7 separate regions of the Homo sapiens genome follow, and all the other regions are reported to be linked to region 4. Evidence: microRNA targets listed by miRTarBase, many of them from high-throughput screens and not tested one by one. Region 4 holds a microRNA gene; each other region holds the end of a gene's coding sequence.
Evidence for each region. The annotated mature microRNA hsa-miR-1228-3p reads UCACACCUGCCUCGCCCCCC and lies in region 4 at 2,925-2,944, shown strand. An mRNA with a match to its seed (bases 2 to 7 or 8) in the 3' UTR can be bound and repressed. Matches are read on the target gene's strand: a 7mer-m8 pairs with bases 2 to 8, a 7mer-A1 pairs with bases 2 to 7 and ends in A, and an 8mer does both.

Region 1: miRTarBase lists FBXO47 as a target of hsa-miR-1228-3p. The part of its 3' UTR that is shown has no 7-base or 8-base seed match.
Region 2: miRTarBase lists IL1RAP as a target of hsa-miR-1228-3p. The part of its 3' UTR that is shown has no 7-base or 8-base seed match.
Region 3: the mRNA of SLC66A1 is a reported target of hsa-miR-1228-3p. Seed matches in the 3' UTR shown: 7mer-m8 at 3,321-3,327 and 7mer-m8 at 2,910-2,916.
Region 5: the mRNA of IPP is a reported target of hsa-miR-1228-3p. The part of its 3' UTR that is shown has no 7-base or 8-base seed match.
Region 6: miRTarBase lists MRPL10 as a target of hsa-miR-1228-3p. Seed matches in the 3' UTR shown: 7mer-m8 at 1,028-1,034.
Region 7: the mRNA of LRRC38 is a reported target of hsa-miR-1228-3p. Seed matches in the 3' UTR shown: 7mer-m8 at 2,509-2,515.

The regions. Positions count from the first base shown.
Region 1 is chr17:38,932,847-38,937,341 of GRCh38, reverse strand. FBXO47 (F-box protein 47) reads left to right here. Exons shown (of 11, transcript NM_001008777.3): 11 at 52-910. The coding sequence ends at 167. Among named protein-coding and RNA genes, the nearest start is that of LASP1NB, 9.5 kb to the right of the region's middle.
Region 2 is chr3:190,648,149-190,651,148 of GRCh38, forward strand. IL1RAP (interleukin 1 receptor accessory protein) reads left to right here. Exons shown (of 12, transcript NM_002182.4): 12 at 190-3,000. The coding sequence ends at 557. Among named protein-coding and RNA genes, the nearest start is that of LINC02013, 50 kb to the right of the region's middle.
Region 3 is chr1:19,327,374-19,332,029 of GRCh38, reverse strand. SLC66A1 (solute carrier family 66 member 1) reads right to left here. Exons shown (of 8, transcript NM_001040125.2): 7 at 4,618-4,656; 8 at 2,730-3,458. The coding sequence ends at 3,387. Among named protein-coding and RNA genes, the nearest start is that of SLC66A1, 17 kb to the right of the region's middle.
Region 4 is chr12:57,191,631-57,196,219 of GRCh38, forward strand. MIR1228 (microRNA 1228) reads left to right here and starts at 2,874; the gene lies at 2,874-2,946. It overlaps LRP1 (LDL receptor related protein 1), which reads left to right. Exons shown (of 89, transcript NM_002332.3): 45 at 1,215-1,340; 46 at 1,546-1,674; 47 at 1,936-2,055; 48 at 2,269-2,382; 49 at 2,724-2,873; 50 at 2,947-3,069; 51 at 3,355-3,471; 52 at 3,641-3,769; 53 at 4,028-4,150; 54 at 4,233-4,373; 55 at 4,457-4,589. RefSeq lists an enhancer at 930-1,429.
Region 5 is chr1:45,696,316-45,700,971 of GRCh38, reverse strand. It overlaps IPP (intracisternal A particle-promoted polypeptide), which reads left to right. Exons shown (of 9, transcript NM_005897.3): 9 at 782-2,261. The coding sequence ends at 1,006. Among named protein-coding and RNA genes, the nearest start is that of TMEM69, 10 kb to the right of the region's middle.
Region 6 is chr17:47,820,669-47,824,577 of GRCh38, reverse strand. It overlaps MRPL10 (mitochondrial ribosomal protein L10), which reads left to right. Exons shown (of 5, transcript NM_145255.4): 5 at 120-1,306. The coding sequence ends at 373. It overlaps OSBPL7 (oxysterol binding protein like 7), which reads left to right and starts at 2,784. Exons shown (of 23, transcript NM_145798.3): 1 at 2,784-2,912. RefSeq lists an enhancer at 2,326-2,495 and a silencer at 2,606-2,821.
Region 7 is chr1:13,473,083-13,477,433 of GRCh38, forward strand. LRRC38 (leucine rich repeat containing 38) reads right to left here. Exons shown (of 2, transcript NM_001010847.2): 2 at 1,891-3,017. The coding sequence ends at 2,764. Among named protein-coding and RNA genes, the nearest start is that of LRRC38, 39 kb to the right of the region's middle.

The DNA of each region.
Region 1 (4,495 bases), not on the chromosome of region 4:
ACTTAACATTTTAACTGTCATTTTCTTTTCCCCACTATGTATGGCATATAGGAGACCGTGATGAAGATGACAGAAGCTTTTTGAATTTGTTCCATCTTGTACATGCTCAGGCTAACTTCCATAAGGAGGTCCTGTATTTGACCATGAATACTCCTCTGTCTACCTAAATCCTCAGAAAGCCTTGCCTTTAGAGAACGTCACTGAACGAATGATTAGAGGAGTGCTACTTTTTCACTCAAAAAATAGCATCCATGGGACTTTTTATCATCTAAGTAACCTAAGAATTCAAAAGCTGGATAGAATTTTAGAAGCAACTACGTACATCATTATTAATATAAAAATAACAGGCAGCCTCAAGAATGTGCTGAGATTTCTCTGGAAAACAAGCTCTGCCTCTCCGGGTTTTAGTCAACCTAACACCAAACCAAAATAGAATGTTAGCTGTTCAAGAATCTGGGACCAGCCAACCTGTATGTATGCATTTTTGAAGCAAGAGAAAATTCCATTTTATAGTTAGACCCAAATTCACTAAATAGTGTGTATGTTCACTTTGTTTAAGTTGTATAGACATAGCCCAGAATGTTTTGTGAAGATTTGCAATATGGTGTTTTGGAATGTGTAGAATACAAATCACAGTTTTTACTACCTTCTTGGCATATGCTTACAAAGAACATTATATTTTGTTCATGTTTTACATGAACTAATGGATAAAAAACAAAGTATACATATATGTCTATATATATATATAGACACACACACACAGACATATATTTCCTTCTTTAAGGTAATCATACAAAAGGTCTATACATACAGGAAGGTATATATTGTCTCAATGCAATCAAATCATCTTTTACTGGGGATTCAAATAAAATGTAGCAAATAAGAGAAAAATAAAATGAAAGAAAATAGCGATTCTGCTGCCAGAATAATCTTTACAAATAGTTTTTACTTCTTCCTAAAGCTTTTCTCCCTATCTTAAAAAGTGAGATTTGTCTGGGCACAGTGGCTCACACCTGTAATCCCAGCAATTTTGGAGGCTGAGGCAGGAGGATCCCTTGAGTCCAGGAGTTGGAGGCTGCAGTGAGTTATGATTGTACCATTGCACTCCAGCCTGGTGACAGAGTGAGACCCTGTTTCTAAACAAAACAAAACAAAACAAAACAAAAAAACAAGATTTGACAAAGGAAACTAAACGTATGGGTGGTTTACAGCAGCCCATGAGAGAGTGGGGTTCGGTTCTCTTCTCTCAAGTATATAGATTCCAAGAAGCTGCAGGACTGTTTCAGCCTGACTAGCATCTGCCACTCCTGCTTTTACTTTTACTATTAAAGTAGATAGTAACAGTACTTGACAGGGCTGAAATAATGCTGGAGTCCTCCTGGATCTCCCATCCCATTTTTTTCTCCTTGGGTTTGAGCACTTTACTTCTGAAGACACATTGCTTCCACCTGGACTTCTCAGAGGCTGGCCTTCTTTACCCAAGCTCTTGATTTAACTCACCTTTGGAGCTGATGAAGGAAAGAAACACTAGAAGATATGGAAAGTATCTGCAGAAGTAGGGGGTAAATTGTGGGAAATTCTCAAATGTTTGGTAAGAGGGACTCAGTGAGAGATGAATAGGACTGAGGAAGAGTGAAAATTGTGGAGAAAATACAAATTGTGAAAACAGGATTTTATTGTACTTCAGTAGTAAAGGCACTTACCTTCATTTCTGGAAGGTGAGAAGTTTAACTGTCTTTCTTAGATGGATTTTCCAACTGTAATTCCATTGGTGGCAGGAATTTTTTTCTCCAGTTTTTCATTAGCATATTTATGCAAAAACAAAGTTCTTGCTTTTATCCTGATTTCATTTTCTTCTTCTCAATGTAAGAATTCACCTTCAGTTGAATTATAAATGGAATTGAATTACAAAGATTAAAAGTTGGCAGATACCAGAGTATAAAATAATACCTTAGTTTTTTCATTTTCCCCTCTCTTTTTTCCTATACATGCTTGCAAAGCATAGATCTATCAAAACATTGATTATTCCAAGTTAAGAATATACCTCTTCAACTATCTGTGAGGGAAAGAAAAAATAAGGAAAAAAAAGTAAAATATTCAAATATAAATAGTGAATTTTTTTTTTTTTTGAGATGGAGTCTCACTCTGTTGCCCAGGCTGGAGTGCAGTGGTGTGATCTTGGCTCACTGCAACTTCTGCCTCTCTGCTTCATGCTATTCTCCTGCCTCAGCTTCCCCAGTAGCTGGGACTACAGGTGTGTGCCACCACACCCGGTTAATTTTTTTGTATCATTAGCAGAGACAGGGTTTTGCCATGTTGGCCAGGCTGGTCTCAAACTCCTGACCTCAGGTTATCCACCTGCCTCAGCCTCCCAAAGTGCTAGGATTACAGGTGTAAGTCACCATGCCCAGCAATAGTGAATATTTTTAATATTTTACTAAATGGATTCTAGATTTCATTTCCTTAGAGAAAGAAATTTGGCATTGTAAAGTTTCCTTGAATTCCTTGAATTATCCATCTCCACAGCAATTATTTTTAGCAAGTTTACAAAAGAAGCATGTAAAACATATTTGGTCTGGGTTTTGAATCTTCTTTATTCACTTGAACTGACATGACTGCTGCTGTAATTAAAAAAAAACCTCACATTATTTATTTCATTATTCTCAATAATTGTGAGATTATTATATCATCTTACCAAAAATTTGGAACATAAAAAGTTTGATTCATTCTTTGGGTGCAGGAAATAAACTGTGTCATTCTGCCACCAATAAAAAGCAAGCTGACAAATTGTCCATTCAATTGTTAAAACATACAAATAACATTTATGACCAAATTTGGAGTTTTTTCAATTCAGTGGTCCATTCTTTTTTGCCGAATACCTTTGTCATGAAGAATAAAGTGTAATGTCAAATTTTAAAGGGGAAATTAACTTTTAAAAGCATATGTTGTTATTACCATTATTATCAATGTTTAAGTGATGGTATAGGCAGTCATTGTCACAAAAAAAGAGCATTTGGAAAATGAATAGTTTAAAAACATTAGGAGACTGTCAATTTCTCACTAACTCTGGAACAGTCATAACAACATAACTATGTAAAGTACTAACAAGTCAGATAATTTAGCCTGTACTGTTTTTTAAAGTAGAAGATTGGCTGCTGGGCGCGGTGACTCATGCCTGTAATCCTAGCACTTTGGGAGGCCGAGGCGGCAGATCACAAGGTCAGGAGTTCGAGACAAGCCCGGCCAAGAGACCAGCCTGGCCAACATGGTGAAACCCTATCTCTACTAAAAATACAAAAATTAGCCCGGCATGGTGGCGGGCGCCTGTAATCCCAGCTAGTTGGGAGGCTGAGGCAGGAGAATTGCTTGAACCCAGGAGGCGGAGGTTACAGTGAGCTGAGATCACGCCATTGCACTCCAGCCTGGGCGACAGAGCAAGACTCCGACTCAAAAAAAAAAAAAAGATTGGCCTAAATTAGCAGACCTGGGGGCCCAGCTCCTTTTTCGTTTTTGTAATGCTTTCCTCAGCCTCCTTTGACTTTGATTTGTAGAATGATTTTTTACTCCCTGTAGAAGGCAAGTTCAATAACACATTATTATCTTTATCTTTATTATTATGTCTACAGACACCATGCACCATAATAGTACTAACAAACTAATGATGCTATCTTCCTTAGAAACTAATTGAAAATGTACAACTTGTGATAAGCTCTCTGTATCTTGTGAAACTATGAAACTTTAACACTTTTTTGGAGGACTCCTGCTCATGCCAATTATGAGATACCCAACAGAAGGTGCAGCTGGAAATACCATCTTATGTCAATGAATAACAAACACTAACCTCTTTGTGATTATTACTAAAAGGTTAACCTCCTTATGCAAATAGTACTCAAATGTATGATTACAGATTTTTATGTCAATAAATATTGTGAAGGGTAAAAATAAGGCTATTACAAAAGCCTCTTTGGTTATTGGATATCTTACTAACAACGTGACTTCTGTAGCACTTCCACTAGCAGGTAACTGTGAAACCTGTAAGAAATCAGGATATGGACATATGCTCCTTGGTTTTTGAGGCATTACTAAGCTAGGAAAGGTGACCTGAAAGATAGCTGCATTGAACAGTCTTCTCCAGGTTAAAAAAGAAAAAAAATTCCAAAGGACTAAGATTGCATTCTTTTCATCAAGAAAACAAATATATTGCATTTAAGGGCAAGATTGAAAAAAAAAAAAAGAAAAATATAACTCCAGAAAATTCCTCAAACTAGAGACTGAAAAAAGAACCCCACAAACCGCAACAATTTGGCCTTTGAAAGACTCTTAAATTAAAATAATAATAGTAATACTTGTAGACATTCTGAGATCACTGCTTTCTTAAAGGTGCGTATAACGAAAATATGCATTGCTATTTCAGAAGTATTCTTTTTATGGTAAATTTTCTTTGATACTAAATATTTGATATTTGCTAAATTTTGTTTATTTACTATATTAATAA
Region 2 (3,000 bases), not on the chromosome of region 4:
GAAGACAGTGGTATTTAACAAAGAGAGTTTGCAGGTATAAGGATTAAGTTGTTCACATTTTTGCTGGTAAAATGTTTCACCTCAATTCTTAGGCTGGTACCCTAAGTTCCCTACATTTGCTCCTCAAGCCTCAATGCTTTTGGGGAGTTTTTGGCCAACACTAATCCCCATGGTTGTTTTCTTTCCCAGTTGTCACAGATGAGACTTTGAGCTTCATTCAGAAAAGCAGACGCCTCCTGGTTGTTCTAAGCCCCAACTACGTGCTCCAGGGAACCCAAGCCCTCCTGGAGCTCAAGGCTGGCCTAGAAAATATGGCCTCTCGGGGCAACATCAACGTCATTTTAGTACAGTACAAAGCTGTGAAGGAAACGAAGGTGAAAGAGCTGAAGAGGGCTAAGACGGTGCTCACGGTCATTAAATGGAAAGGGGAAAAATCCAAGTATCCACAGGGCAGGTTCTGGAAGCAGCTGCAGGTGGCCATGCCAGTGAAGAAAAGTCCCAGGCGGTCTAGCAGTGATGAGCAGGGCCTCTCGTATTCATCTTTGAAAAATGTATGAAAGGAATAATGAAAAGGGTAAAAAGAACAAGGGGTGCTCCAGGAAGAAAGAGTCCCCCCAGTCTTCATTCGCAGTTTATGGTTTCATAGGCAAAAATAATGGTCTAAGCCTCCCAATAGGGATAAATTTAGGGTGACTGTGTGGCTGACTATTCTGCTTCCTCAGGCAACACTAAAGTTTAGAAAGATATCATCAACGTTCTGTCACCAGTCTCTGATGCCACTATGTTCTTTGCAGGCAAAGACTTGTTCAATGCGAATTTCCCCTTCTACATTGTCTATCCCTGTTTTTATATGTCTCCATTCTTTTTAAAATCTTAACATATGGAGCAGCCTTTCCTATGAATTTAAATATGCCTTTAAAATAAGTCACTGTTGACAGGGTCATGAGTTTCCGAGTATAGTTTTCTTTTTATCTTATTTTTACTCGTCCGTTGAAAAGATAATCAAGGCCTACATTTTAGCTGAGGATAATGAACTTTTTTCCTCATTCGGCTGTATAATACATAACCACAGCAAGACTGACATCCACTTAGGATGATACAAAGCAGTGTAACTGAAAATGTTTCTTTTAATTGATTTAAAGGACTTGTCTTCTATACCACCCTTGTCCTCATCTCAGGTAATTTATGAAATCTATGTAAACTTGAAAAATATTTCTTAATTTTTGTTTTTGCTCCAGTCAATTCCTGATTATCCACAGGTCAACCCACATTTTTTCATTCCTTCTCCCTATCTGCTTATATCGCATTGCTCATTTAGAGTTTGCAGGAGGCTCCATACTAGGTTCAGTCTGAAAGAAATCTCCTAATGGTGCTATAGAGAGGGAGGTAACAGAAAGACTCTTTTAGGGCATTTTTCTGACTCATGAAAAGAGCACAGAAAAGGATGTTTGGCAATTTGTCTTTTAAGTCTTAACCTTGCTAATGTGAATACTGGGAAAGTGATTTTTTCTCACTCGTTTTTGTTGCTCCATTGTAAAGGGCGGAGGTCAGTCTTAGTGGCCTTGAGAGTTGCTTTTGGCATTAATATTCTAAGAGAATTAACTGTATTTCCTGTCACCTATTCACTAGTGCAGGAAATATACTTGCTCCAAATAAGTCAGTATGAGAAGTCACTGTCAATGAAAGTTGTTTTGTTTGTTTTCAGTAATATTTTGCTGTTTTTAAGACTTGGAAAACTAAGTGCAGAGTTTACAGAGTGGTAAATATCTATGTTACATGTAGATTATACATATATATACACACGTGTATATGAGATATATATCTTATATCTCCACAAACACAAATTATATATATACATATCCACACACATACATTACATATATCTGTGTATATAAATCCACATGCACATGAAATATATATATATATATAATTTGTGTGTGTGTATGTGTATGTATATGACTTTAAATAGCTATGGGTACAATATTAAAAACCACTGGAACTCTTGTCCAGTTTTTAAATTATGTTTTTACTGGAATGTTTTTGTGTCAGTGTTTTCTGTACATATTATTTGTTAATTCACAGCTCACAGAGTGATAGTTGTCATAGTTCTTGCCTTCCCTAAGTTTATATAAATAACTTAAGTATTGCTACAGTTTATCTAGGTTGCAGTGGCATCTGCTGTGCACAGAGCTTCCATGGTCACTGCTAAGCAGTAGCCAGCCATCGGGCATTAATTGATTTCCTACTATATTCCCAGCAGACACATTTAGAAACTAAGCTATGTTAACCTCAGTGCTCAACTATTTGAACTGTTGAGTGATAAAGGAAACAAATATAACTGTAAATGAATCTTGGTATCCTGTGAAACAGAATAATTCGTAATTTAAGAAAGCCCTTATCCCGGTAACATGAATGTTGATGAACAAATGTAAAATTATATCCTATATTTAAGTACCCATAATAAATCATTTCCCTCTATAAGTGTTATTGATTATTTTAAATTGAAAAAAGTTTCACTTGGATGAAAAAAGTAGAAAAGTAGGTCATTCTTGGATCTACTTTTTTTTAGCCTTATTAATATTTTTCCCTATTAGAAACCACAATTACTCCCTCTATTAACCCTTCACTTACTAGACCAGAAAAGAACTTATTCCAGATAAGCTTTGAATATCAATTCTTACATAAACTTTAGGCAAACAGGGAATAGTCTAGTCACCAAAGGACCATTCTCTTGCCAATGCTGCATTCCTTTTGCACTTTTGGATTCCATATTTATCCCAAATGCTGTTGGGCACCCCTAGAAATACCTTGATGTTTTTTCTATTTATATGCCTGCCTTTGGTACTTAATTTTACAAATGCTGTAATATAAAGCATATCAAGTTTATGTGATACGTATCATTGCAAGAGAATTTGTTTCAAGATTTTTTTTTAATGTTCCAGAAGATGGCCAATAGAGAACATTCAAGGGAAATGGGGAAACATAATTTAGAGAACAAGA
Region 3 (4,656 bases), not on the chromosome of region 4:
AAGGTAGGGGCTGTATCGCCTCCATCACACAGGGCACTCCCCAGGGGGAGGGGCCATGTCTTCCCCATCAGATTGGAGGCCTCCTGAGGAAGGAACCATAGCTCCTGCCTGAAAGTGCTATCACCCCAAAAGCTGGTGTTTCCCAGGAGGAAGGGATTATGTCACCCCATCAGAGAAGGGCCTCCAAGCAGGGGCTATGTTATCCCATCTCACTCTTCCCCACCCGGCCCCAGTTCAGGACCACACTTGGGGCTCATGTGGCTATACTGTGCCCCCAGATCTTCAGGCTGGAAGGGCACCTACTGGTCCCAGGTAACTGGTGTGGAGCCAGGTCCCAGACCCAGGTGGAGCGAGACATCTAGCTGGCACCTGAGGCAGGCACAGGCCAGGGCAAGCTGGGGCTTCGGGCCTGGGGGTAACTTATCCTGAAATCTCGGCAGGGCCAGAGGCTCAGCAAAGTCGCTATTCAGGATGGTGAGAAGGGAGCCTGGGTCCAGCAGGGTTCGGGCCACTCCTGAGGGTGAAGCTGAACTGCCACAAGCCATGGGCCCCCAGCAAGGATGGAGGAAGGGGACACGGGCCGCCAGCGTTGGCCAGGTGTGGGGTGGCTCCCAAAGCTGGAGGGTCTCGTGTTGCTGCTGCTCCTAGCTGGGCAAGCTGCTCAATTGTGCTGAGACTGTTCTCCCATCTGTAAAATGGCCATAAAAATACTCCCATCTTGGCCGGGCGCGGTGGCACACCTGTAATCCCAGCACTTTGAGAGGCTGAGGCAAGCAGATCACCTGAGGTAAGGAGTTCGAGACCAGCCTGGCCAACATGGTGAAACCCCGTCTCTACTAAAAATACAAAAATTAGCTGAGCGTGGCGGCAGGCGCCTGTAATCCCAGCTACTTGGGAGGTTGAGGCAGGAGAATCGCTCGAACCCGGGAGGCGGAGGTTGCAGTGAGCTGAGATCGCACCATTGCACTCCAGCTTGGGCGGCAGAGCAAGACTCTGTGTCAAAAAAAAATAAAAACTCCCCCATCTCAGAGCTGGCTGTGAAGACGGGGAGATCTCGTGCACTGATGGCAGGCGGCGCAGCCCGCACATGGCAAGTGTGCAACTAACAGCTGCATGCCAGATGGCATCCTGGGCTCCGTGGGTGTCCCCTAGGGGGACAGGGCAGGGGAGACTGGCCCTCTCTGCCCACCTGGGTCTCAGAGGTGTGCCTTGCCTCCTCTCTCTAGCAAAAGGCTCTTCACCCGACCAAACCCCATCACCTGCTGCTGGGCTGCTGCTGGGTGTGCCCCAGGACCTTGTCCTTGGCATTGGTGTGGCTTTCAAGGCTCCTTGTAAGCAGCCCCACCTTGGAAGCACCCGAGACACCCACCTCCAGGCCTCTGTACCTGCCCCTCCCTTTTCCTGAACTGCCCTCCCCTCTGCCTTCAAGATCCAGCTCAAAGGCCACTCCTCTGAGAAGTCCTCCCTGATTGACCCTCCTGGGGCTGGTCTCATCTGCTCATTTCCTGACATTTCTACCTTCTGGTCATGGTAACCATCTCCTCTCCTGGAAGGCAGGGCCTTGGAGCTGGTTCACCACAGCCCCGGTGTCTGACACAGCAAAGGCTGAGTGGAGGGCTGTGCTCACAAAGGATCTGCGGCACCAGAATGGCCATGGCACCGTTTCCCTTCTCCGGGGCTGGGAAGGGAGATCCTAAAGGCAAGGCCCACTCTGGGACGCAGCGTCTCTCCCCAAGACTACCCCACCAGATACCCCAAGTCCCTGGTTCTGGTTTTCCACAGCTAGGGTTGGGTGTGTGGGGTGAGATCAGGCCAACAAGGTGGGGAGCTGGCGTCTCTGTGCTCCAGGCACCTGAGGGTCATGACCCCCAGGAAAGTGGAATCAGAACAGGGTCTGGAGCCAGGCATGGTGGTGCTCATCTGTAGTCCCAGCTCCTCGGGAGGCTGAGTGGGAGGATCCCTGGAAGCTAGGAGTTCGAGGCTGCAGTGAGCTATGATCGCACCACTGTACTCCGGCCTGGGCTAAAAAATTTTAAAAATAAAACAGGGTCTGGACAACACTGAGTTTGCGGGTCCAGGAAGCACTCGGAGCTCAGCTCTGCCCTCCTCTCCACTCTCCCACCTTGCTCCTGTACCCGCCACTTCTTCCTCCTGCCTTCAATCCTCCCTCTTTCCCTGTGATATCTCCCGCTCATCCTTCTGACCTATCACCTCCTCCAGGAGGCTCTCCCTGATCTCCAAGATCTGGTTGCTCCTCTTCTCCAACTAAAAGTCCTCAAAACTAACCTTTATTGAGCCCTTACTATGCGCCAGATCTGGGGCTAAACTCCATAATGTCAGCATCTTATGTAATCCTTGAAAGGACACAGGAAATGACAGTACTGTCCATTTCACAGATGAGATAAGCTAGGCACTGAGGAACTGCGATGGAGAACCCAGATCCAACAGAACCTTAACCATTCTGCTTCTTCCTGAACACCGAGGGGCAGGCTCCCCGTGGGGAGTCACTCTCCCTGCTATGTCCCCACAGTAAGGTGTGGGGCCTGTCAGGAAAGGGCCCGGAGAAGCAGGCTAAAGAAACCAGAGGCCCCAGGAGGCTGGGCCAGGGCTGCAGGCAGATGCGGTCCCCTCTGCTCAGCTCGTCCTGAATCCCCATCCACATCCACCGCTGGTCCCCAAAGCAGCCCCGATCCCTCAGCACCTTGGGGAAGGAGCAACAGAAGCAGGTCTCATGGGGAGGTACCGTTTCCTCGGTTATCTTTTTTATTTTTTTGAGACGGAGTCTCACTCTGTCACCCAGGCTGGAGTACAGTGGCACGATCTCGGTTCACCGCAACCTCTGTCTCCCAGGTTCAAACAGTTCTCCTGCCTCAGCCTCCCAAGTAGCTGGGACTACAGATGTGTGCCACCACACCTGGCTAATTTTTGTATTTTTAGTAGAGATGGGGTTTCACCATGTTGGCCAGGCTGGTCTCGAACTACGGACGTCAAGTGGTCCACCCGCTTCGGCCTCCCAAAGTGCTAGGATTACAGGTGCGAGCCACTGTACCCGGCCTGTTTATTCAGTTGTCTGGAGTTGACAGGACAGTCCTGAGTCCAGCAGGCTGTGGCTGTGGCCCCTGGGGTGAGTAGGCAGAATGAGGTAGGTGGTAGGAGGGGCAGCCTCACTGTCTCCTGAGAGGCCCTGGGGTCTCCGCTCCAGCCCCGGCCTTGAGGCTTCGGGGTCTACCTGAAGGTGTGTTCCTGGGGGGACGGTTCGGTCCACGGAGGATCCAGAGGCCACCCGCAGGCTGATGCAGGGCCGCCGTACCATCACTGTCCACACCTCCTCCTGCCTGGTGTGGCATCCGGTGGTGCCTGTCCTCCTGCGCTCAGCCTGGTTCTGGTCAGCTGGGGAGGAGGGGCTCAAGCTCCGAGGCGGCGGTGCTGCGCCTGTACACCAGGAACTGGATGGAGATCTGGGGGTGCCGCCGTTAAGGCCAAGCTGAGCAGAGACTGGGTTGGACCTGCCCCTGGGGGCCTTCGACTCCTGGGAGCTGCCTCCCTCTCCCCTCCCTCCCACCCCCACGCTGCAGGTGGGAAGGGCCAGCCATAACCTCCCAGCCGCTACCTTAGCTGTGCCCTCCACTCAGAACTTCTGCCCGGCTCCTCAAGCCCTAGCCAAGCTCCATCTGTCTCCAAGCCTAGCACTGACTTCTCCTTCCCGTGGGCAGCCTCCCTTGACCCTGGCCCAGGATCTTCGCTTGCTCTCAGCTGTGGCGTCCTGGAGGCTTCCAGGTGGCTGGGCCGTTTTGGGGCACAAGAGCCTAAACTTTCACCCCTCCCTGCGCCCGGCAGGGACTTAACAAATATTAAAACAAAGGCCATGTTTACTTGCTCCGAAATGAGACCCAGGTAACGCTCTTTACAGCCATTCAGCAAACACTTTCTGAGCCCTCACTGAAAACGGGGTCCTGTGGGGAGTGTTTCCAGATACCTCATCTTACACAACATCCTGACGAGACAGTGGCTGTTAACTGAGGTGAAGACACGGCAGCACAGAGAGGTTGACTGTGTGCCCTGCGTCACACAGCTAGGAAGCAGGGGAGGAGCCAGGATTTGAACCCAGGTTTGTCTGACCAAGTCATGTGTCTCTCCACACTCCAGCTCTCGTCTGCACAGCCTAGAACATTCCTCTCCTGCCTTCGCCTGACTTCTCCTACTCTGTCAAGTCACAGGTTCAATGAGACTTATAGGGGCCTTTGCTGCCCCTCTAACCAGGACGGTCCCTGGCTAGACGCTCTTGTTGTTTTTCTCTGCAGCACTTGGTGCCACTGCAATGAAGTAATTCTTTGATGATAGCGTTGTGTCCTCTCTGCGCCCCGCTGGGCTGTAAGCTTCTGGGGCACTCATGGCTGTTCTTGCTCACTCACGGCTCCAGGGTCCAGCTGGGTGCCTGGCACACAGGAGGTGTGCACGACTGGGTGAACAGATGGAGGGAGGGAGGGAGGGAGGGAGGGATGGATGGATGGACGGATGGATGAAGGGAGGAAGAGACGGATGAGTGCTGACGCTGTGTGCAGGCAGAAGCTTCCTTGCCCACACCCCGCCACCTGCCCCACACGCCCTGAAGGATACGATGGTGTCGAGCAGCAGCACGCCCAGGCTGCCCACAAG
Region 4 (4,589 bases):
CATCCCACACATACTACACTACACACACCACACCACATACACACACCACACCCCTCCCACACACTCAACACATACACACCACACCATACACACCCCCCACACACCACATACACATACACCCCCAACACATACACACACATACACACCCCACATACACACACCACACATATCACATGCACACCCCACATATACCACACCACACACATACCACACACACACCACACACCACATACACACCACACATACCACACACACCCCACACATACCACATACACACACCACCACACACACTACACATACCACACACACACCACATACACACACCACATACACACACCACACATGACACATACACACCACACATAGGACACACATACACATGCCACACACCTACCACCCACAACACACATCACACACACACCACACAGCACACACACACACCACACACCACACGTACCACAAACATGCCACACACACACACACACATCTCACAGACATACTATAAACACCCCACACCCCACACACCACACCCCACACACACTTGCCTGGTCCTGCTCTCCCTGGGCCTCCATTACACAGACACACACAGCTGTACACACCTTTGGAACCGCAAAACCCCCAGTGCTCCTGTACCCCTTCCCACCAAGGCATCTACGCACACAGATGGACTCTGCACACGCCTGGCATCTCCTCCACGTTGCACACACACATTCATGTCACACCCGCCCCTCAGGGCTCATCCATGCCCTCGGTGCCCCTACCCTCACCCTGGTCACTCTCCTCACTTGGAGCCACACAGACAGCCGAGAGCCTGGGTGCACGTGCCCTCAGTGGGCACGAGTACATGCCCCAGCGCCCCCCACCACAGACCTGCAGCTTTCCCAGGTGTCTCCCATGCGCCCTGGGGCTCACTACTGCACCCGTGATCTCAGGGCCCTCAGACTCGAATCTCTCAGAAACACTCCTCAAAGCCCACGGTGCCCTGCCTAAAAGCACACACATCCTCAACGGCACACCTGCCGAAAACCCCATGCACCTGGCCCTCCCACAGCAGCCATCCCCATGCCCTCCCCACTGGCTGCAAGCCGCTGTGCCTGCCGTGACTGAGCAGAGGCTTGGGAGCTCCATGAAGTCAGTGAATGGGTGGGTGCACTCTGGGTGCATGCACAGCAGAGAACACTCTCCAGCCCTGCGCCCACCCTGTCCCTGCTCAGGTGAACTCTCTCCATGCCGAATCAACAACGGTGGCTGCCAGGACCTGTGTCTGCTCACTCACCAGGGCCATGTCAACTGCTCATGCCGAGGGGGCCGAATCCTCCAGGATGACCTCACCTGCCGAGGTGAGAGAGGCGGGGGGGAGGGGCTGGCGGGGAACCCAAGCACACACCAGGGATGGTGACCATCTCCCCTACATGCTCCAGCCCAGCCCCCCAAAGCCTTTTGCCAAGAAGACGCTGATGATGACCTCAGCTCCCCGGGGGAGGAGGCGTGGGCACTGGGGCCCACAGCGCTGGCTCAGAAAGCTCCCTCCACCTCCCTCCCCAGCGGTGAATTCCTCTTGCCGAGCACAAGATGAGTTTGAGTGTGCCAATGGCGAGTGCATCAACTTCAGCCTGACCTGCGACGGCGTCCCCCACTGCAAGGACAAGTCCGATGAGAAGCCATCCTACTGCAGTAAGGAGCCCCCTGCAGCCCCTGCCTCTTCCAGGCCCAGAGCCCAGGTCCTCCTCCCCCAGGCCCCTGCAGGATGGAGCAGGATCAGGACCCAGCTTCCTGACCATGAGTTTTGGGAGCTCATGAAGGGCAGAACCACTGTTAGCCTGGACTGGGCCTTTGGGTTTGGGGGTGGCCAGCTGGACACGTGCATGACGTCTCAGGGAGGCAGCCCTTTCCCTGTGCCTGTGGCTGACACGCAGCCTACTCCTCCATTTGCAGACTCCCGCCGCTGCAAGAAGACTTTCCGGCAGTGCAGCAATGGGCGCTGTGTGTCCAACATGCTGTGGTGCAACGGGGCCGACGACTGTGGGGATGGCTCTGACGAGATCCCTTGCAACAGTGAGTGAGGCGCACTGGCATAACCCATCTGTACCTCAGTTCCTGCCCCACCCCTCCCTGGCCAAGCTTTGTCCCTGGGCCCCGTGGTGTCTGGTTCAAGGCACTCTGTGACAGGCCAGGGCAGGTGCTGTGGGCCAGGAGCTCTGTCCTGCGTCCTTCTGGCCCCCACAGAGAAAACTCTGGCCTGACGATACGGGGCGGGCACTGTTCTAGAGACAGCCTGTGGTGTGGGCGAGTTCCGCTGCCGGGACGGGACCTGCATCGGGAACTCCAGCCGCTGCAACCAGTTTGTGGATTGTGAGGACGCCTCAGATGAGATGAACTGCAGTGAGTGACGCCCTTTGCTGGCACCTCCTGGGCTCCTCCCCATCGCTCACTGCATCTCCCGCCTTCAGGCCCTCCTGCACCTGCCCACATTCCTCTCTGCCTTCCCTCATCCCCGCTGACAGCCTCCATCTCCCTGAGGCCCTGTCCCCATCCCGCTCCTGCTCCTGGGCTCTCGTGGGGTTCCGAGAGGGGGCAGTGAGCAGATGGTGCAGACAGTGCCCCACCAGAAGGGCACCGTTCAACTTTTGGAAACACATGAAGGCTCCATAGGGCTGGCAGCTGCCCCAGTCGGGGGTGATCCAGGGGGAACCAGGTATCACCCTCACCCCTGCCCCCACCAGGTGCCACCGACTGCAGCAGCTACTTCCGCCTGGGCGTGAAGGGCGTGCTCTTCCAGCCCTGCGAGCGGACCTCACTCTGCTACGCACCCAGCTGGGTGTGTGATGGCGCCAATGACTGTGGGGACTACAGTGATGAGCGCGACTGCCCAGGTGGGCGGGGGCAGGTGTGTGGTGGGTGGTGGCCTGCGGTGAGCAGGGCCCTCACACCTGCCTCGCCCCCCAGGTGTGAAACGCCCCAGATGCCCTCTGAATTACTTCGCCTGCCCTAGTGGGCGCTGCATCCCCATGAGCTGGACGTGTGACAAAGAGGATGACTGTGAACATGGCGAGGACGAGACCCACTGCAGTGAGTGACCACTGCACCCACTCAGTGCTCCAAGAGCCTGCTGGGCCCCACTTCTTAGTCCCCCCCAGCAAATGCCCCCTTGGAAAAGGGCATCCAGAGCCTTCAACCCCCTGCCCCACACCCCAACTCTTGAGGTCAGACTCAGAGACTCTGCCTCTAGCTGCTGCTGAGCCCCCCCACAGAGGGGTGCTGTGGGCATCTCTCCTGTCCTTCCCATGGCATCAGCCTCCCCAGGTGGGTGACCCCCACCCTTCCCCATCTAACTGTGGCTTCTGACTGCCCCAGACAAGTTCTGCTCAGAGGCCCAGTTTGAGTGCCAGAACCATCGCTGCATCTCCAAGCAGTGGCTGTGTGACGGCAGCGATGACTGTGGGGATGGCTCAGACGAGGCTGCTCACTGTGGTAAGGAAGCTGGGATTGGGCCGGGGGAGGTGCCCCAGGGAGGGACAGACCCCACCCAACTCCACCCCACACACAGACACCCCTGCAGACGACGGCGAACCATCACCTCCACTGCTAGACCTGATCTACCCGCTCCTAAGTCTCTCAGTGGCCCTCTCTCCCCCTACAGAAGGCAAGACGTGCGGCCCCTCCTCCTTCTCCTGCCCTGGCACCCACGTGTGCGTCCCCGAGCGCTGGCTCTGTGACGGTGACAAAGACTGTGCTGATGGTGCAGACGAGAGCATCGCAGCTGGTTGCTGTGAGTGGCGGGGCCACGTGGAGCGGGTGGACAGCAAATGGCCACAGTCTCACTTTGCAGATGGGGAAGCCGGGGTGCAGGAGAGGAAATGCCTCAGCGGGGTCCACTGGGGGCGGAGCCATAGCTGTAGCCCAGGTGTCCAGACTCCTCATCCAGTGCCCTGCCCACTCTACCAGGAGAACCACAGGAGGTTAGAGTGAGGGACGGTCGGCCGCTGGCCAGGCAGGGCTGAAGGGCTGTGTCCACCTCTGTCCACAGTGTACAACAGCACTTGTGACGACCGTGAGTTCATGTGCCAGAACCGCCAGTGCATCCCCAAGCACTTCGTGTGTGACCACGACCGTGACTGTGCAGATGGCTCTGATGAGTCCCCCGAGTGTGGTGAGCCTTCGGCGGTGGTGGGAGGAGGCCCTGCCCTCTGCCGGGCCAGGGCATCAGCCTCACAGGTCCATTCCTCCCCCAGAGTACCCGACCTGCGGCCCCAGTGAGTTCCGCTGTGCCAATGGGCGCTGTCTGAGCTCCCGCCAGTGGGAGTGTGATGGCGAGAATGACTGCCACGACCAGAGTGACGAGGCTCCCAAGAACCCACACTGCACCAGCCAAGGTGGGCCCCAGACCTGGCTCCCCTCTGCCCCCTCCCCAGACTGCCTGAGACCCCGCTGACCTGCCGCCTCCGCCCCTCCGCAGAGCACAAGTGCAATGCCTCGTCACAGTTCCTGTGCAGCAGTGGGCGCTGTGTGGCTGAGGCACTGCTCTGCAACGGCCAGGATGACTGTGGCGACAGCTCGGACGAGCGTGGCTGCCACATCAATGAGTGTCT
Region 5 (4,656 bases), not on the chromosome of region 4:
GATTCCATGGTCAAATAAATTTGTCAGGTGTTCCATGCTGTGTCATTCTCTTGGACATTTTTAAGACTCATTAAAATACTAAAGGCTTTTAAAAAATCCTTTGGTTTATAAGCTTCTTTCTCCTTGGAGCTTTGTGGTTCTTTTGTTTTTATTTGCTTATTTTTGAGTGTATTACCTACTTGTATTCCATAGACTTTGTTTCTTAGAATGTTGTCCTGTGTATGAGTTCTAGGTCATTTCCTGATCATGTTTTATAATCAGACCTTTTAAAAAATTATATTCCTCTAAATTTACTTTGTTCATGCCCACTTCAAGTTTATTTTAAAATATTCTGGGCCGGGTGCTGTGGCTTACACCTGTAATCCTAGCACTGTGGGAGGCTGAGGTGGGACAATCACTTGAGTTTAGGAGTTTAAGACCATCCTGGACAACATGGTGAAATTCCATCTCTACAATAGAAAAATTAGCTAGGTGTGGTGGTGTACACCTGTAGTCCTACCTACTCAGGAGGCTGAGGCAAGAGGAGCTCTTGAGTCTGGGAGGTTGAGGCTGCGCTGAGCCGAGATCGTTGCTGTGCATTCCAGCCTGGGTGACAGAGCGAGACCCTGTCTCCAAGGAAAAAACAAAGCAAAAAAAAGAAAAAAAAATCTGTATGCTTACCTGACTAGATAGTTTTACATTTAAACATGTAAAAAGAACTGGGATATCGAATTTCTCAGTGGATTTCTTTACTATCATTTCATAACACTGCTAACATATTTTTTTTTTCTCTCTTAACCAGGAAAAGTGGGTTGAAGTTGCCTCAATGAAAGTGCCTAGAGCAGGCATGTGTGTTGTGGCAGTCAATGGTCTTCTGTATGTTTCTGGAGGTCGATCTTCCAGCCATGATTTTTTGGCTCCAGGTACCTTGGACTCAGTTGAAGTTTATAACCCTCATTCAGATACATGGACAGAAATTGGTAACATGATCACCAGTCGTTGTGAAGGGGGCGTTGCTGTGCTATGAAATATAAAGCATAACAGAGCACAAGGAACATTTTGAAAATGCAGGACCTGACCTTTTGCAAAGCAAACATAGATTTGGTGATAAGACCCTCTGATTCTGTGAGTTTTCCATGTATTTGGTAGATAAATGACTAACGAGGCTGGGCGCAGTGGCCTCATGCCTATAATCCCAGCACTTTGGAAGGCTGAGGCAGAAGGATCACTTGAGCCCAGGAATTTGAGGTTGTAGTAAGCTACGATCATGCCACTGCACTCCACTCTGGGCAACAGAATGAGATCCTGTCTCTTAAAGAAAAAAAATAAACTCAAGAATGATTTTTCTAAAAATATGAGTGAGAATGGATATGGAATATATCCCAATTAATAAAGAGCTCACACAGATTTGCCAGGTTTACTAATAATAGAAATGCCATTTATGCTGTAGAATTCTCCAGTTTAAGTGTAGACAACTCCTATTTTACAAATTTGTAGAAATTATTTACTAGAAGCTTCCTGGCAAATAGTCCCTTTAGCTACTTCTCCAGTGCAGTATAAATTGTAACATAAAACTTTATGTGATATAGGAATAGTGTCAATGACACAGTTTAAAGACCTCTATATTCACAATTATATCCAGAGCATAATTTTCCATGGCCATAGTTTGAGCCACAGAGAAAGCCAATGAAATAGATTCCTACTTTTATTTAATGCCAAGAGTTTTCACTAGCCCCAAACTTTTTATTGGCAGCAGATATCCTAGGAGGGGTGTTTGGGAAATATCTAGCTATTTTAATAGATAGATACCTTTTTGCTTGATGATAAGTTTTTGCTTGCTCATATTTTTTGTCTTGATCCTGAGAATGCAAGTAAGGAATTAATAGGAGGTTCTTAGTGACCAGATGTTGTAATGGGCTATACAGTCCAGCAGGCAGTATGCACCTAGAAATTTCTCCCTTTTTTAGGCTGGGCATGGTGGCTCACACCTGTAATCCCAGCACTTTGAGAGGCCGAGGTGAGACGGGAAGATGGCTTGAACTCAGGAGTTCGAGACTAGCCTGGGCAACGTGATGAGACTCCGTCTCTACCAAAAAATATATAAAAATTAGCCGGGCGTTGTGGCTTGTACCTGTGGTCCCATCTGCTTGGGAGGCTGAGGTTGCAGGATCACTTGAGCCCAGGAGGTCAAGGCTGCAGTGAGCCAAGATTGTGCCACTGCACACCGGCCTGGGTGACAGCATGAGAACCTGTCTCAAAAAAAAAAAAAAAAAAAGAAAAAAAAATTCTTCCTTTTTTGCTAGATTGTTGTCACCAAAATTATCTGTTTGGCTTTAGGAAGAGGGAATTTTATTAGATTATCAAGCTTTGTAAAATTTATTTGTACTTGGGCAAACCTAAGTAAGAGCATACTGCAAAGCTACTGCTTGGATGTAGAGGGCTAAATTGTAGGTACTTCTGAAACTTTTTATAGATACTGACTCATAAGTGTAATTTGAAAGTACCCCTTGACCCAAACAAAACTGCTTCTCAAAACTTCTCATTTTCTCCCTGAGAAGCATTCTAAAGAATTGTTCTCTGTTCATTTCTAAGAGAAAGATTTACTGGGTGTATGATGCGGTTACTTTTAAGTTATTTCTACTGGCCAGTTGGAGCAATATATATTAAAGGTCTTGCATACAGTAAAAAAAATTTTTTTTTGAGATGGAATTTTGCTCTTGTTGCCCAGGCTGGAGTGCAAAGGCGTGATCTCGGCTCACTGCAACCTCCGCCTCCCGGATTCAAGCGATTCTCCTGCCTCAGCCTCCCAAGTAGCTGGGATTACAGGCGCCCACCACCATGCCTAGCTAATTTTTCTGTATGGGGTTTCACCATGTTGGCCAGGCTGGTCTCGAACTCCTGACCTCAGGTGATCCACCTGCCTTGGCCTCCTGAAGTGCTGGGATTACAGGCATGGGCCAGCGTGCCCGGCTGCATACAGTAAAATTTAACTAGTTGACTTAAGGATTTGATTTCCCGTTTCTTTTTTTTTTTTTTAGATGGAGTCTTGCCCTGTCACTCAGGCTGGAGTGCAATGGTGTGATCTCAGCTCACTGCAACCTCTGCCTCCCTGGTTCAAACGATTCTCCCGCCTCAGCCTCCCGAGTAACTGGGATTACAGACGTGAGCCACCATGCCTGGCTAATTTTTTGTATCTTTAGTAGAGACGGAGTTTCACCATGTTGGCCAGGCTGGTGTTGAACTCCTGACCTTGTGATCTGCCCACCTTGGCCTCCCAAAGTGCTGGGACTATAGGTGTGAGCCACCGCACTCTGCCGATTTCCCATTTCTTTGCTAAGGTCCTTCAGTATATTACTATAAGCATCATCAACTTATTTAGATAGAAAACTTTTAATTGCATTAATGAATTAGGTAGCACTCATATCCAAATTATTTGGTTTAGGCCGGGCACCGTGGCTTATGCCTGTAATCCTAGCACTTTGGGAGACTGAGGTGGGCAGATCACTTGAGGTCAGGAGTTCAAGACCAGTCTTGCCAACATGGTGAAACCCCGTCTCTACTAAAAATACAAAAAATTGGCAGCAGGTGGTGGTACATGCCTGTAATCCCAGCTGCTGAGGAGGCTGAGGCAGGAGAATCACTTGAATCCAGGAGGTGGAGGTTGTAGTGAGCTGAGATCATACCACTGTGTTCTAGCCTGGGCCATAGAGCAAGACTTTGTCTCAAAAAAAAATAAAACAAAAAATATTTGGTTTAGTCTACAACTATACCTTCCTTATAACTTAACCATATGCATTTATTAGGAAAAGTTTATGTAATGCAGACAGGAAGCTCTATGTTCCCTTCTCTGGGGCATCCTGAACGTCTGAAGGGTCACAGATGTCTGTGTAGAGATCTGTAAGATGTCAAAGAATAAAGATAATTTATAGACTAAGCTATAACTCATGTGCCTTTACTATTTCTAGTTACAGAGAATCTGTATTCTGATTCAAAACAGATTTACAAAATACTTCTACAACTAATTTCTCATTGTCTAGTAGCAACTGAAAATGACACTTTGAAGGGGTGTGCTTTGCACAGCTGTGGCAGAAATGTAATGTCAAGGCAGTCAGTGTTTTAACAGGTCCCGAAGATCCCTGAAAATAGGTGACTGTAAATATGCTTATTATTCCTAGGTAATGACAAGATTGGTTTTGTTTTTGTTTTTGTTTTGAGATGGAGTTTCGCTCTTGTTGCCCAGACTGGAGTGCAATAGCATGATCTTGGCTCACCGCAACCTTTGCCGCCCGGGTTCAAGCGATTCTCCCGCCTCAGTCTCCTGAGTAGCTGGGATTGCAGGCATGAACCACGAGGCCCAGCTAATTTTGTATTTTTTGTAGAGGTGGGGTTTCTCCATCTTGGTCACGCTTGACTCGAACTCCCGACCTCAGGTGATCTGCCTGCCTTGGCCTCCCAAAGTGCTGGGATTACAGGCATGAGCCACCTCACCAGGCTAACAAGATTGTTTTTAAAAGAATGTACTAATAAAGTATCTAGTTTTTTTGTTTCTTTGTATTACTTTATCAGTGGCATTCTGGGTTACCAAACTGTAGTAGGATTGCACAAGTTTTTTAGTTGGTTTTGTTTTAACTTTAAGGACTTGCACATTTCATTTTACATTTAATTCTGTTTTTTGAG
Region 6 (3,909 bases), not on the chromosome of region 4:
TCCTGGGGAAGGCAGGATTTTGAGAAGGGCAATGGAGAGCAAGTTACTAGGGTCAGAATATTGTTTTCAGAGAAGAAAGGCAATCTGCAAGGAGCCTAACTGACCCTGTGTTCTTCCAGGTGGCTGCATTGATGACACCATCCTCAGCAGGCAGGGCTTTATCAACTACTCCAAGCTCCCCAGCCTGCCCCTGGTGCAGGGGGAGCTTGTAGGAGGCCTCACCTGCCTCACAGCCCAGACCCACTCCCTGCTCCAGCACCAGCCCCTCCAGCTGACCACCCTGTTGGACCAGTACATCAGAGAGCAACGCGAGAAGGATTCTGTCATGTCGGCCAATGGGAAGCCAGATCCTGACACTGTTCCGGACTCGTAGCCAGCCTGTTTAGCCAGCCCTGCGCATAAATACACTCTGCGTTATTGGCTGTGCTCTCCTCAATGGGACATGTGGAAGAACTTGGGGTCGGGGAGTGTGTTTGTCACTTGGTTTTCACTAGTAATGATATTGTCAGGTATAGGGCCACTTGGAGATGCAGAGGATTCCATTTCAGATGTCAGTCACCGGCTTCGTCCTTAGTTTTCCCAACTTGGGACGTGATAGGAGCAAAGTCTCTCCATTCTCCAGGTCCAAGGCAGAGATCCTGAAAAGATAGGGCTATTGTCCCCTGCCTCCTTGGTCACTGCCTCTTGCTGCACGGGCTCCTGAGCCCACCCCCTTGGGGCACAACCTGCCACTGCCACAGTAGCTCAACCAAGCAGTTGTGCTGAGAATGGCACCTGGTGAGAGCCTGCTGTGTGCCAGGCTTTGTGCTGAGTGCTGTACATGTATTAGTTCCTTTACTGCTGACCACATTGTACCCATTTCACAGAGAAGGAGCAGAGAAATTAAGTGGCTTGCTCAAGGTCATGCAGTTAGTAAGTGGCAGAACAGGGACTTGAACCAAGCCCTCTGCTCTGAAGACCGCGTCCTGAATTTCTTCACTAGAGCTTCCTCATCAGGTTACCCAGAAGTGGGTCCCATCCACCATCCAGGTGTGCTTGGATGTTAGTTCTCCACCCTCGAGGTGTACGCTGTGAAAAGTTTGGGAGCACTGCTTTATAATAAAATGAAATATATTCTACTTCCTTTATTTTGTGGTTTACACGGTTGTCCTCCCTCTAAACTTACTCTCAGGGGCTTCTCTGTCATCTGACTTTCCTCACTCTTGCTTCCCTTCCTAGGAAAATCCTCTTCCCCTATACCTGTTCCCACAAATGGCATCCCGCGCATGCTTGCCCTATTAAAGGCAGCTGACAGCTGTACCCACTAGCTAACGTGTCTCTGGTGGTTCTGGACAAAAGGCCTGCGGGAAAACTAGGATTCTCTATTAATGGGGAATTCTGAGAGCTCTAGGGTAGGAGGCCTCATGCAAGTCTTCATGAACCAGAAATTCCTAATAAAGGAGACGGGATGCTTAACTCAGAGTCCACCATCATCCTTGACTGGAGCACATTCTGGGTGGATGCAGGGGTGACCCGGGGAAGGTGGCTGTTCAACATTCCTTCTCGGACTTGAAGCAATGCCACCGCTTCCTTAGTCTTGGACAGGCACTGTCTGGCAGGGATGACCTGCAGCAGCTCTTTTGTGGCCTGGGCCAGGACCAGCTTCCCCCAGTGCCTCATCCTGTGCTGTATGCCCAGGGATGTTCAATCACTGGGAAGTGGCTTAAAAGGCCCTTGAGGCTCCTGGATGCCAGAGCTTGTCTGGTCAGTGCTGCCCAGTGCTCCTGTCCCTCCCAGAACCCTGCCAGGTGCTAACAACACCCTCCTCCTGGGGTGGCTGGAGCAGCACTGAGGCTCTGAATAAAGGCAAGACAGTGGGTGTTCCCGAGAGATATGTGAGACCCTGAAACGTAAACCAAGCTCGGTGAGGATGAAGTGGAAGGGATAAGTGGCCCATGTCACTTTTGGGGTCAGAGAAGAAACTTGAATCACATCCTTCACCTGAGGCCCCACCTACTTCTTTCCAGAAAACTTAGCTGCGCTTGAAACTGTAGGTCTATGCCACATTCATTTGAATGAATTTTAGATCTTTGTTAAGAGCCGATTTTTCATTAGAATTGAGCAGCTGGGCACAGTACTCCAGCAGAAGGGTAAAGGGAAGGGAGGGGACCAGCATTGCAGCCCTTTTAACGGCAGCTGTGACTGCCCCAGGCCTGCTCCTGATCAGAGACTGCAGGCTGTGGGGTGTCTTCATACACACAAGCACTTTCAGATCTCCATGGGGCCTGACCTAGTGGGGCATCACCCCAGTGAAGGGCCTCAGTGTGGGGACTGCTGGCTGTCCCTTTCCTGGCTTGACTGCCCCTGCTGACTGTGCTCTTGGCACTCTCTTATGGTCCCAGAGGGGGCATCTGTCCCTCCACCATCAACCTGATACTTTTGCTGGCTCCAAATTTTGCAGTCTATTTTCAGATGTAAAATGAGAGGCGGGGGGCGGGGGTTAATTAGGAATTGGCCTTGGGTACTAACAGGGTCACTGCCATGCTAGTCTGAATAAATCCTTTATCACCACTGGCGTACAGCCAACAGTTCCCCAGTCCTCTGATCTATCTGGAACCATGCCCAGCAGGGACTGTGCCCCCACTCCCAAGCCACATCGATGCTAGGGCAGTCTGCTCAGCCCTGAGTCCTCCGGGGAGCAGGGGGGCAGAGCTGAGCGGCTGCCCGGAGCTTGGCGGGAGGAGGGGACAGGGGAGAGGGAGGTGGGGAGATCCGGCTAGAGGGGAGGCTCTGACATCTCCTTCCTTCCTGGTTCCTGCAGCAGCTGCTGCCACTGCTCAGCGCGGTGAGGAGGGAGCCGGTGACTCGGAGACGGTGACTCAGAGGCAGAGCGGCGCAAGGGCCAAGGAGTACTGGCGTCCATGGACCCTGGGGTAAGGGGGCTGCGTGGCAGCAGCTGACATTCCTGAGAAGAGCTTCCTCCCACCTGAAGCTGGTGGGTCTGCTCCTGAATAGAGGTGGAGAGGGGGCACCCACCTGGCTCACCTAGACCCTTCACCTGCCTACCGATAGAGCCTCCCCCTCTACCCACAAGCAGTGAGGGGCCAGGATCCCCACAGGGCCGGGAGAAGGGCCCAGAGATACCTGAACACCGGAAGAGTTTGAGAACTTTCAATGGCTGAATGCAGGAGTTTCCTCCCAGGTCAGCCTCTTGCAGCAAGGGTCCCTCTGCCCCAACCTCCTGGGCACCCGTTCCTGCCACATCCCTGTCCCCTCTGGGCCTCAGTTCCTCAGGTGCTTGCTAGCTCCATTAGAAGATCTGGGCTGCTTCCCCCACCTCAAACCAGCCTCGCCCCTCCAGTCCCCTCCCCCGTCTCACACATGCAGAGCCTCATGCATTATTGATCTCCCGGTGGAGCCAGGATGGCCAGGGCCAGTGCCAAGGGTGCCTGTGGGCACTGCTGCAGGACCTGTGCAGACCTGGGCATGTCCTGGGCCCCCTCTTCTCTCATGAAGTATCTCCTTTAGCCCAATGTCCTGCCCTCTCTGGGTGGGTGGCACTTCTCAGAGCCCCAAGGACTGTGAGGGTAGACAGGGGATGGTGAGGCTTTAGGGGGTACTGAGGGTCCAAAAAGGGCATCCTAGGGGCATGTTTGGTGGGAGGAGACATGGGAAAATGGGGGCTATCTCAGGCCTCAGTTTCTCCAAGCACTAGATAATATGGAGATTAATTGGTGGGAGGCTGGGGAGTTTTCTGCAAGATCATGGCAGAGAAGTCTCTGAGCTACGGTGGCAGGGTGGAGGGGTCCTGAAGGCAGAGGCAGCTGGATTGAGGAGGTCTCGCTTGTCCAGTCTCTGAACCCCTCTGTCTCTTCTTGGAGCCTCTTCTGTCACTCCCTTGCTTCACCTCTGAGCACTCCCAGGGAAGCC
Region 7 (4,351 bases), not on the chromosome of region 4:
TTATGACTTTGGTGGAGGCCAAAACCCAGTTGGGTTCATGCCTTTGAGTCTCAGGTAGTGGTGCTCCTGAGGTGGAGAGCGGGCCATGGCAGCAATTCCAACCCCACGTAGTTCTCAGCTGAATCTGGGGCCAGGCTGGGGAGGTGCTGACTTTAGATTGTGTTGTTTTGCACAGGGGGAGCAGTATGTGCACTGAGGGTCAGAGACCATAGATGGGGCTCTCACAGGAGCTGAGGTTGCCATGGAGTCCTGGAAGATGCCACTCACTTCTCCGCTGGCCCAGGGTCTCTGTAAGAAGGTAGCCCTCCTGAGCCAGGGGTCTCCTCCACTGGAGACTGCAATGCTGGGGAGCAGAGGGGTGACCCAGAGTCTCCTCTAGGCTGAAGGGGAGAAAAGAGTGGGAGAGTAGGAAAGAAGGGAGGAGGTCAGGAGGCGGGAGAAGGGGGAAGCAGGATTCAGCCCAAAAGCCACCCAATCAAAGGCCTTCTGCGATGTGATGGTTAATTTTGTGTCAACCTGACTGGGCCATGGGGTGCCCAGATATTTGGTTGAACTATTTCCAGGTGTGTCTGTGTGTTTTTGGATGGGATTAACATTGGAACAGGTGGACTGAGTAAAGCAGATGGCCCTCCCCAGTGTGTCGGGCCTCATCTAATCCAGTAAGGGCCTGAATACAACAAAAAGGTGGAGGAAGGAAGAATCCACTGTTTTTCTGCCTGACTGCTGAGCTGAGTCTTCTCCTGCCCTTGGCCTGGGACTACACCATCAGCTGTCCTGTCTCCAGCTCACCAACTGCAGATCATGGGACTTCTCAGCCTCCATCATCTCCTGAGCCAAATCCTTACGATAAATCTCTTTGTCTGTCTGTCTGCTGTTGGTTCTGTTTTCTCTGGAGAAACCTAACACACCCCACTACCTCCGCTGGAGTGTCTTCTCCCAGTGACTCTCTGTTAAAGGACCTCGCTTATTTCCTTCATGATACTTATCTCTGCCTGCAATGGTAGTTTTGTTTCCCTGTTTGTTTTATGTTCTACCCATAAGAATATAAAGCACAAGACAGCAGGGAACCTGTGTTTCCTATCCAAAGCATAGCCACAGTGCCTGGACCAGTACCTGGCACTCAAGCACTCAATAGCTATTTATGAGGGCAAAGATGGAAGGGAGCAATGGAGGAAAGAAACAGGAATATATGATAGGAAACAATGGAGAAACGATTCTCAAAAATATCTCGAGAGCTGGTGTGAGGCCCTCATCCAAGTCTCAGCCCCCAGCCTCATCCAATGCTGCTAGCACAAGCTATCTTGTATTAACCCACTGGGGTGTAAGACTTGTTTGTTTCATATTGTCTCTGAACCAAAGTGCTGCATTCCACATCCTGGAAAACACTTTTTTTGGTGCCTGTCATAGCCTGTGCACCAAAGCAATGTCACATACACCCTAAGGGCCACTGATGGAAGTTTTTCAGAGCCCAAGTCCCAGTGTTTTTTGTTTTGTTTTTTTGTTTTTTAAGCATTTGGTTGATCCGGTGCAACATGCTGGTTGGAATACTGGCCTCCAGGCAAGTTTACCAAAAGTTCTGGAGATAGAGAACTGTGCTGACATAGAGAGTAGCTGGGAAGGAACTCAGGAAGCGGGTGATGGAGGGGAACAACCTGTCTGTCCTTCAGAAGGAAAAATGATGCTGAGCAGAGAGACCATCACAACTGTACAAAGCAACTAATCCTTCCTCTACAAGTCGCTACCGCTTAGGATAAAGATCAGGGTTTGAGTTATGTCAAGTCAAAGTTTTCCCAACCAGCTTACCAAAATTAACAACAGACACCCTCTGACCAGTTGTTAGCTTCTTCATGGGTCCATTTCGACCACTATAACAGAATACCAGAGATTGAGTGGCTTACAAACAACAGACATTTATTTATTTCTCCCAGTTCTGGAGGCTGGAAGTCTGAGATCTGGGTGCCAGCATGGCTGGGTTCTGGTGAGGGCCTGCTTCTCGGTTCATGGGCAGCTGATTTCTTGCTGCATCCTCAAGCATTGAAGGGGTGAAGGAGCTCTCTGGGGCCACCTTTCATGAGGGCACTAATCCCATCATTTGGGCCCCATCCTCATGATATGATCTAAACCTAATCACCTCCCAAAAGCCCCACCTCCAAATACCATCACATTGGGGATTAGGTTTCAACATATAAAATCTGGGGGAACATAAACATTGAGTCTATTGCACACGAGTTTATTAGTTCCCAGTATAACATCCCAAGGTTGCTGAGGCCTATTATATAAGGATCAAAGTTCTCGTTCTTGTGGTGAATGATCCGAATTTGAATCTCCACTGTTTGAGCTGCTGTTTCTTGGGAGGAAGGCAGATGTTTCATGATCTCCCAGTACAGGTCAGAAAAAGAATGGCGTAAAATCATCTTTGCCATTGAAAGCTGCCAGTCTTCACATTTCCTGGGGGAGGCTTTTAGTCATCAGCTATGAAGCCTGACTCGGTCATCTTCTCCCCCAACACACACCTCGATCTGAGAGGCAGGTTATGCTCCAGGAATAATTCCCTCCATCCTTCCTGGGCTTCTGTGCTCTGCTGATTCTAAACTCTGAGATCAGTGGTCCCAGCAGGTGTACCCAGGGGCCAAGACACGGAACAGGCTCTGTTCAGTTCACAGATGGTGGCCAGTGCTTTTCCATTTTCAGCATTTCCCTCTCGTCTTGGAGAGAGCTTCTGGTTCGGTGCTGGAGAGTAAGAGGCAGGAGGGAGGAGGTGGCTCAGTCATCCTTGTCCTCGTCTTCATCCTCCGCATCTTTGTTGGGTGCGCACCTCTGGAGGCACTGCACCACAGTGGCCAGGAAGAAGCTGGAGATGATGGCCGCAATGGACACGGCCACACCGGAGAAAATGATGATGCAGAGGTCTGTGAGTGACAGGCTGAACCTACACTCGCTGAAGCTGGCCTCCGACAGCTCACGCAGGGATATCCTCCTGCTCTCCATGGGCAGGGAGCACTGGATTTCATCAAGGCCTGAGAAAAGGCAGGCAGAGGAGAGAGAGATTTAGACTGCAGCTCAAGGTTGCCTAAAAGTTGACAAGGCAGGTGCTTACAAAGCCAGCAATGTGCAAGCATCCTCCCAAAAATAAAAGGGGGGAAAAGGCTAATTTAAATGGAATTTAAACTTGAAAAAAAAAAAAAAGCCTTAGAGTGATCACCATGGGAAAAGTTGGAACGTGCTGGTCTTCACTGACCTATTTTCAGGTGTTTGTTTTTTGTTTTTTGTTTTTGAGACGGAGTCTCTGTTGCCTAGGCAACATGGCGTGATCTCGGCTCACTGCAGCCTCTACCTCCCGGGTTCAAGCGATTCTCCTGCCTCAGCCTCCCAAGTAGCTGGGATTACAGGTGTGCACCGCCACACCTGACTAATTTTAGTATTTTTAGTAGAGACAGGGTTTCACCATGTTGGCCAGGCTGATCTTGAACTCCTGACCTCAGGTGATCTGCTCACCTCGGCCTCTGAAAGTGCTGGGATTACAGGCGTGAGCCACTGCACCCAGCCAGGTTTATTACTCTTTTGATTTTGAATTACTCAGAGCGGGGATGGAAGGGCATCATTATCTGTTTCGGGTTTAGGACATCTGTAGACCCTAATCCAGACCCGACTAGTAGCAGGGAGTGGAGGTTGGGGCAGATGCAGTGGGATGGGTCAGTGCCAACTAGCGGACAGACCCTCCACTTGGTAGTGCCACTTTCCAACTTAGATACTATCCTCCTCTTCACTGTCCTCTGAGTGGAAATGAAAAGAGGGTTAGCATGGTCAGGAGTTCGGGACCAGCCTGGCCAACATGGTGAAATCCTGTTTCTACTAAAAATACAAAATACAAAATTAGCCGGGCATGGTGGTGTGTTCCTGTAATTCCAGCTACTCAGGAGGCTGAGGCACAAGAATCACTTGAACCCAGGAGGCAGAGGTTGCAGTGAGCTGAGATCGCCCCACTGCACTCTAGACTGGGCGACAGAGCGAGACTCCATCTCAAAAAAAAAGAATGTATTGAAGATGGATTTCGCCATGTTGCCCAGACTTGAACTTGTACTTCTCCTGGGCCAACAACCGGGTTGGTGATATACAAGGCAACTAAGTCCTCTACTCTCAGAGAGTTTAAATTCTAGTGCGAGAATATAGACATTCATTTATGCCACAGATATTTTTTAGTATTTGCCATGTACAAGGCCCTGGGGATACAGCAGGAAACAAAACAAAGCCTTTGCCTTCATTTAGCTTACATTTTAGACAATAAATGAATAGTTCAAGACATGTAAAATGTTTAGGATGAAACGTCAGGGTAGAAAGATAAAGAAAGTCT